2 linked regions of the Homo sapiens genome follow. The protein of the gene in region 1 purifies or fractionates together with the protein of each later gene. This does not show direct contact. Each region holds a gene or a part of one and is shown on either strand. Other genes may lie near its edges.

Region 1 (4,003 bases):
TGAAAGATCCTCCCAATAAAGATCTCCCTTTGAGTCGACCACAGTGAGTGATCCCGGTGAAATCAGCGCTCAGGTGCTGGGGGCAAAAAGACCTGGGCCTCTGTGTTCCTCTCTTGAGTTCTTGCACTGTGGTGGGGCAGTTCCCATAGTGGACCATGGGTTTCTCTTTCAATAAGGAGAGCTCAGTGACATCCAATTCGACAGACATTCACTAAGGGGCCTAGCACCGCGCCTCACGCAGAATAGGTGTACAAAGCAGACACTCAATAAACTCAGAAAGGGAGAGGTGGGTTCCTGCTTGCTAAGACTTTATATCTAGCAGATAGAGAAACCATAACCATAGCACAAAGTAGAGAAAATGGGAGCTTTCAGAGCCCCAAGGGGCAGAGGAAAGAATGATGATTCAGGGCGCGTGGAAACTTCATGAGGTGGCTTTCATCTCCTCCCATCCAATAGACGGGTCTTAAGCATTGTTGAGTATCTCCAGAAAGGCCAAACTGCGCCGTATCCTCTGCTAATGGGGCACGTTGCCAACCCCGCCCTACCTAGGGTATCTTTATTGGTGGGCCCATGGACATTCCAGCCAGACCCCCCCACTCCCCCCACCCATTTAATCAGGAGGAATGTGCTGCCCCCTGGATCCTTTATCTTCACCCCCCTCCCCGCTTGGATTCAGGATGTGTTAGGGAGGCTTGCAGAAGACAGGGGCCGGGCTGTTTGACCAACCTGGTACAGGGTCTAGCACATAGCAGGGGTGGTAAATAAATAGCTTTGATGAGGACAGACGGGACTAGGGCAAGGCTCAAGGCCCAGGCCATGTAAGGCACAGGCCAGGCAAGGTGCTTCCGCCGCTCTTAACGGGGATTTGACCCGGAGAAGAGAGTTCTGTCGCCTGCGGCCCGCGCACCCGGGCCCCTCCGGGCTGCCCCTCCCAGGCAAATAGTCCTTCGGGGATGTGGATTGCGCCGTCCGGGCGGGTGGGCGGGGAAGAACACGGAGGGGGCCGGGACCCAAGTTCACGCCTCCCTCCTGCATCCCGCAGCCGGCGGAAGCGATTATTCCCCGGCGTCTGGCGGGGCCGGGGGCGGGCTCGCACCCGGAGGAGACACGGGTCTCCCCGAGCCCACCTTTGATCGCACCGCCCCGCCTTCCCAGCCCCTGGCCCGGGAGGGTATAAGTGCGGCCCGCGCCCCTCCGAGCGGCGCGCTGGGTTCCGGAGCGATGGCCACAGCCGAGTCCCGTGCGCTCCAGTTTGCCGAGGGCGCCGCGTTTCCAGCGTACCGGGCCCCCCACGCCGGCGGGGCGCTCCTGCCGCCCCCGAGCCCTGCGGCAGCCCTGCTCCCTGCGCCGCCCGCGGGCCCCGGCCCAGCGACCTTTGCGGGCTTCCTCGGCCGGGACCCCGGGCCGGCCCCGCCGCCCCCCGCCAGCCTGGGCTCGCCTGCGCCCCCCAAAGGCGCGGCCGCCCCGTCGGCGTCGCAGCGCCGCAAGCGCACGTCTTTCAGCGCCGAACAGCTGCAGCTGCTGGAGCTCGTCTTCCGCCGGACCCGGTACCCCGACATCCACTTGCGCGAGCGCCTGGCCGCGCTCACCCTGCTCCCCGAGTCCAGGATCCAGGTGAGGGCCCGCTGCGTTCGCAAGTGCGCGCTGGAGCGGAGGCGCTGCGGACTCTAGGTCTGGACTGCGGGCTCCTGAGGCCACACCCGGGACGTTGCAGGCACGGTGCTTCCCCTGAGGCTCTGCGTACTAGACTGAAATAGGGGGTGATATCGGCACCTGCTGCATAGGGTGGTTGCGAGGCCTGTGTGAAATAATTTAGGCCTGCACTGAACGATTTCTCTCATTATTAAATATAATAAGGGCTCCTAGGAGGCTAGCCGGTCCCCTGAAATGGCCAGAAAGTAATTCCCAGCAGGAAGATAAGAAGTTTTACACTTTTTCTTTATCCGGGAAGAAGACACAGATGAGGGGCAGTTGGGGTTTTCCTCTGGCTTTGAGCGTGAGAATGGTAGCTGAAAACGGGGAAGGCTGGCTCGCCAAGTTACCCCCATGCTACTTTCTTGGCAAGTGTTACGTTTTGGGATTAGATTTGAAAGGATGTAGCGAATTGAGATAAAGCGAGAAGCACCTGGAGCTTGTTTTCAGTTTGAAAAATCTAGTGCAAGGTGTGTTTATTTTTATTTATTTAGTTTTTATTTGAGATGGAGTTTTAACTCTTGTTGCCCAGGCTGGAGTGCAATGGCGCGATCTGGGCTCACTGCAACCTCCGCCTCCCAGGTTCAAGTGATTCTCCTGCCTCAGCCTCCCGAGTAGCTGAGATTACAGGCGCCAGCCACCACGCCCAGCTAATTTTTGTATTTTTAGTAGAGACGGGGTTTTACCATGTTGGTCAGGCTGGTTTCGAACTCCTGACCTCAGGTGATCCACCCGCCTCAAAGTGCTGGGATTACAGGCGTGAGCCACCGCGCCCGGCCGTGTTTATTATCTAAAGTAATTTAGATCAGAATCTTAGAGTTGGTAAGGAGAAGCCTGCCTTTTTGTCTGTCTGTAGCCCCGTGGTCGGTGTCCAAGCGCAGTTTTAAGTAGCAGCCCTCATTTAAACACTGGGAGAGTGGACTTGTTTTCTCTGCACCCCTGGCGGTCATACAGCTGTCAGTCTCAACAGCTGGCATGAGCAAAATACCTCCTTGATTAGTTTGACAAGGGAGTGCAGACCTTAAAAAACAGGTTTTCTTCATAATTTAATGCAGTTTTTTTCTAAGAATTCTAAGTGCTTCCATTTTTGTGACCCCATTTTTCATGAAAATTTCTCTAACTAAAGAGTAGATAGAACTAGGCATTATTCCAATGTTTCCATCTGGGAATGGGGAGGCAAGGAAAGCCAGGTGTTCTGAACTTCTAATCGTCAACCCAAGTGCTTTCTGAAGACAAGGCTCTGGAGAGGAAGCCAGGGGATGTTAAACTGGAACTTACCAGTATGAACTGTGAACATAATGTTAGCATAAAAAACTCCAACCAAAAGCAGCTTTTATTTTCTCCCCTCTTCCAGGTATGGTTCCAGAACAGGCGTGCCAAGTCTCGGCGTCAGAGTGGGAAATCCTTCCAACCTTTGGCTAGGCCGGAGATTATCCTCAACCACTGTGCTCCTGGAACTGAAACGAAATGTCTGAAGCCCCAGCTGCCTCTTGAGGTAGATGTGAACTGCCTGCCCGAACCAAACGGGGTTGGAGGGGGCATCTCTGACTCTAGCTCCCAAGGTCAGAATTTTGAAACCTGTTCCCCTCTCTCTGAAGACATTGGTTCAAAGCTGGACTCATGGGAGGAACACATCTTTTCTGCCTTTGGTAACTTTTGAGGATTCTGGGAGAATTCGGGATAAGCTCTGAGGAGCCATGACTGACAGCCTGGGAGAGACACATCAGCATACTGTCCTTTCTGACTTCCATGCTAAGGACATGTCCTTGTTAACCTTGATGATGGTTTTGACAGCACCTCTCACATTTGAAGGTACCCCGCCACTTTGTCAATGACGTTTTAAGCCCACACTCCCACCCCAGAGTTCCCGCATTCGTTTTTACCTGTGTTCTCTCCAAGCCTGCACATTCCATTGGTCTGCATCCCTATGCCTTCTTGCCAGGCCTGTTTTTAGTTTTTGGACTGGTTGTTCAGAACTCATTATTTTCTTCACAAGAATGCCTCAGCTTGACTCAGTTTCCCCTTGTGTTTGACAGCTGCCATTTTCTCCTGGTCCCTCCAAGGCTTATAATCTTAAAGTCACTCTACCCCGTCTCTTCAACCCTCATCCTAGGTTTATTACTTTTTAAAATTGGGCCTGTCATCTTCACGTTCAATCATAGCTCCAATGACTCTGCATGCAGATTATTTCGACAGCCCCCTTGCCTCTAGCTTCTCAACTACTTAAAAAAAATTACCCTCTGTGGGCCAGGTGCAGTGGCTCACTCCTGCAATCTCAGCACTTTGGGAGGCCGAGTGGGTGGATCACCTG
Region 2 (4,195 bases), on another chromosome or scaffold:
GGGCAGGGGAGACTTAGCGCGGGGCGCAGATACCATGTCCGCGGGAAAGCCCCCTTGCTAGGGCGCAAGACTCCTCTGAACTCGCTGCCCCACCCGATGCGCAGGCTTTCTCTAGAGGGGTTGGGGCTGGGGTGCCCGCTCAGGAGACCGGGAAACAGAGGCTGCTACCCGAGGCAGGCCCTCGTCCAGCGAATGGGCGAGGTGTGCAGAAGCGCAAAGCCAGGCCTTGGAAGGGGGAGCTTCTGCCTCCTTCCCCCTTCCTGGGCTCCCGTTTTAGGAGGAATGTTACTGTTTAAAGAGACCCCACTGAACTATTTCCTGCTCATTGTCACCTCTCCTTCGCTCTCCTCGCGTAAGTTCTCACCGAAAGGTAATAAAACAACCGCTGCCGACACCGCTTGGCGCTGGGCCGGGCGGGGAAAGCGCCCCGAGTCCCACTAGTCCGGACCACCCCGCCAGCCCCGACCTTCTCCCACCTTCCGTGAAAGCAATGACACAGCAGAAACCACGCACACGCCTGGCACACTCGATGCGCGCGCTGACCTCGGCAACAAGTCCTGTTTTTATAAGAGAGCGAGGAGGACACTTCTCAGAAGGGGTTGTTTTGCTTTTGCTTATTTCCGTCCATTTCCCTCTCTGCGCGCGGACCTTCCTTTTCCAGATGGTGAGAGCCGCGGGGACACCCGACGCCGGGGCAGGCTGATCCACGATCCTGGGTGTGCGTAACGCCGCCTGGGGCTCCGTGGGCGAGGGACGTGTGGGGACAGGTGCACCGGAAACTGCCAGACTGGAGAGTTGAGGCATCGGAGGCGCGAGAACAGCACTACTACTGCGGCGAGACGAGCGCGGCGCATCCCAAAGCCCGGCCAAATGCGCTCGTCCCTGGGAGGGGAGGGAGGCGCGCCTGGAGCGGGGACAGGTGAGGCCGCGCGAACGTTCCAGCCTGGCGCGGCTGCGGGATCCGGGCGCGCTGGGAAAGCGAGGAGGACCCCGCGCGGGAATCAGGGAGCATCGCAGGCTGCCGGGCAGCCCCTCGCGGAAGTGCGGGCTGGGGCGGGCTGGGGCGGGCTGGGGCAGGCCGGGGCGTCCAGCTTACCTTCCTCCGGGGCTTGCCCCGCCGCTTTGATGGAGGTGCAAACATTTGGAGAAGGGCGGGGGTGTAGGGGCTGGGCCGGGGCTCGCAGGGCTGGGGCCCCGGATTTACATGAAACAGGCGTGCGGGAGCCCATTGTTGGCCCCCGGCCTCCCAGACCCGCCCGGCTGGGTCTGATATGGCCGCTCTCGGCCAATGGGAGGCTGCCCGGCACTTCAAAGCGTGCGCGGCCCAATCCGCCGAGCACCCCAGCGCTGCCGCCGCGGCTCTATTTATGGGGAGGGCACTGAATTTCGGTCCCCAGAGACCTACACTAGTAGAGCCTTGGGGAGTTCAAGTGGAATAACTTCTCCCCACCCCTCTGCCCCCGTCCCCTCCCCCCAAGTCTTGGTCCGCGCCCTCCTCCCGGGTCTGTGCCGGGACCCGGGACCCGGGAGCCGTCGCAGGTCTCGGTCCAAGGGGCCCCTTTTCTCGGAAGGGCGGCGGCCAAGAGCAGGGAAGGTGGATCTCAGGTAGCGAGTCTGGGCTTCGGGGACGGCGGGGAGGGGAGCCGGACGGGAGGATGAGCTCCCCTGGCACCGAGAGCGCGGGAAAGAGCCTGCAGTACCGAGTGGACCACCTGCTGAGCGCCGTGGAGAATGAGCTGCAGGCGGGCAGCGAGAAGGGCGACCCCACAGAGCGCGAACTGCGCGTGGGCCTGGAGGAGAGCGAGCTGTGGCTGCGCTTCAAGGAGCTCACCAATGAGATGATCGTGACCAAGAACGGCAGGTGGGTGCGCGTCCGGAGCCCGCGCGCGCCGCGCTCTCCAGCGCCTGGGCAGCCTGGGGGACCTGGCAAGTTCCCGGAGGTCGAACCCTTTTTCTCCTGGAGGAGGGCTTTGTGTTTGTTCCCGCTCTGGTTAACTCCCTCGAGTGCATTTCTACAAGCCCCTCTTCTGGGGCTTTCTCCGCGGAAGCTTGGGGAGGAGGAACGCGCACTTCGGTGTCCCGACCTCGGAGGCATCCCGGGACCCGCGAGGCGCGCCCTGGTCCCCGCCTGTCCCCGCGGGATGTGGCCTCCTGCACTGAAACCCTTCGCCAGGTCCTCTCCTCCCCTCCCTCCCGAGGCCGTGGAGATGGTGAGGAGGCCACCTGGACCTGGCAGGGCTCGGGGAAGGGGGAGCTTGGGAGTCACCCTCGGACGTTCCCCAGGGGGCTCCTCTGTGCCCCGAAATAACTGAGGCCTCTGTGCCCAGCTTCTGCCTCCGGCCTACCTGGTCAGTGTCGGGGTCCTCCTGCGCCCGCCCCGTGTTTTCCAGGAGGATGTTTCCGGTGCTGAAGGTGAACGTGTCTGGCCTGGACCCCAACGCCATGTACTCCTTCCTGCTGGACTTCGTGGCGGCGGACAACCACCGCTGGAAGTACGTGAACGGGGAATGGGTGCCGGGGGGCAAGCCGGAGCCGCAGGCGCCCAGCTGCGTCTACATCCACCCCGACTCGCCCAACTTCGGGGCCCACTGGATGAAGGCTCCCGTCTCCTTCAGCAAAGTCAAGCTCACCAACAAGCTCAACGGAGGGGGCCAGGTAGGTGTGAGGAGCCCGCCAGGTCTGGGACCAGCGAGGAGGGGGCCGCGCTGCGCCTTCTGCACGGGGGTTGTGGGAAGGGACGCTGCTTGAACGGGAGGCGACGTCTGCCCTGGAGAAACTGCCACAGCCTTCTCTAATAAGGCCTTTAGCGCTGTTTATACTAAGCTGATAACATCCACGCCTGGCGAACGGGGAGCGGGAGCACTCCCCTTTGAAGGACTGGAGCTTTTGGGGAACTTCCGTTGTCTAGCCCTAAACTCTCCTGGGGGTGGAAAAGATATCAGCCTTGATGGCAAAGTCGCATTTAAATTTAAACATGCGCCACAGTACTTACTGCGTGGAGTCGGAACAAACTTGTAAAGTCGTGCTTTTCTAAAGAACATTCTTTAGTCGGGGATTGTTCCTGGAAGACCCCAGGTTAGGCAAGTTGCAAACAAGCTCAGTCTTTTAAAAATGACCATAGCCTTCCTGAAAGCCTTAGTACTTTATTCCACCAGGTGAAAGGATTTTGTGATGAGCATTCATTGCTTTTAATGGTGTGTAGCATCTCACATCCCTTTTCCAAACAAGCTGTGGGAATAGCACATATAAACCGCGGAGAAGCCTCCCCTGGTGGAACCCCACTTCCCTCAACAGCAGAGACACTTTCTTGGGATCCAGAGGACTTTCTGCATCCTGGAGAAATGGATGTTTTGCTGTTTTAACGCAGGCCTTTCAGTGCCACCAATCCTGTATCTGTCTCCCTCAGATCATGCTGAACTCCTTGCATAAGTATGAGCCTCGAATCCACATAGTGAGAGTTGGGGGTCCACAGCGCATGATCACCAGCCACTGCTTCCCTGAGACCCAGTTCATAGCGGTGACTGCTTATCAGAACGAGGAGGTGAGAAGGACAGAGGCGGATCGCTTTCCCGGTGTGCTGCGGTGTGGTGTGCTGCTCCGTGGAGATTCTGGAGGAGCGGGGAGACGCGCTAACCCGCACTGAGAGGAAGGCTTCCTGCCCTTTCAAATAATATTCCGGAACTTGAAATGGAAGCACAGGAGAGAACTGTTTAAATTAAGTCCCCATTCAAACATTTTCCCCTTGAATTCTCCATACAAGTGTTTAAAACTAGAAACAACTTCTCAATGCTCAAAATGAAAAGATCCAAAAAGCATTCAGGTTAAATGGTGTGAGAATTTCTTGAGAACAAGACTTGAGTGAGAGAGGGGCATGTCCTTCCTTGGAAATCTTCCCCAAAGGGTGGGGGGGCAACCCCTCAAATCTCTGCAGTGTGAAGACTCAACTAGATACAAGCTACTGCATAGGTGCCTGTAAATCTATGCCTAAGCCCAACCCCAAAGTACTGCAAATTCGACATTAGTTGGATACCTTGTTGGTGTTGACGTTGACCGAAAACTAGAACTTCCAGGTCTCTATTTCCTAAGCAGCCCCAGACTGTGTTTTCAGCCATTTCTGATTTATACACATGGAACATTGTTAGTAGTAGGTTAAATTTATTGTGAATCCCACTCAGAACATTGACATTGAAAATTT

The links. Proteins that work in one complex are often made in the same cells at the same time.
Region 2: the proteins of MIXL1 (region 1) and TBXT purify together in Homo sapiens (pull-down; one study listed by IntAct). This does not show direct contact.

Annotation. Positions count from the first base shown.
Region 1 is NC_000001.11:226,222,461-226,226,463, forward strand, and holds the start of MIXL1 (homeobox protein MIXL1), read left to right. Parts: upstream 1-1,203; 5' UTR 1,204-1,221; coding exon 1,222-1,614; intron 1,615-3,022; coding exon of another isoform or gene 3,023-3,046; coding exon 3,047-3,352; 3' UTR 3,353-4,003. UniProt on the Homo sapiens protein: Transcription factor that play a central role in proper axial mesendoderm morphogenesis and endoderm formation.
Region 2 is NC_000006.12:166,165,052-166,169,246, reverse strand, and holds the start of TBXT (T-box transcription factor T), read left to right. Parts: upstream 1-1,395; 5' UTR 1,396-1,655; coding exon 1,656-1,861; intron 1,862-2,390; coding exon 2,391-2,655; intron 2,656-3,406; coding exon 3,407-3,541; intron 3,542-4,195. UniProt on the Homo sapiens protein: Involved in the transcriptional regulation of genes required for mesoderm formation and differentiation. Binds to a palindromic T site 5'-TTCACACCTAGGTGTGAA-3' DNA sequence and activates gene transcription when bound to such a site.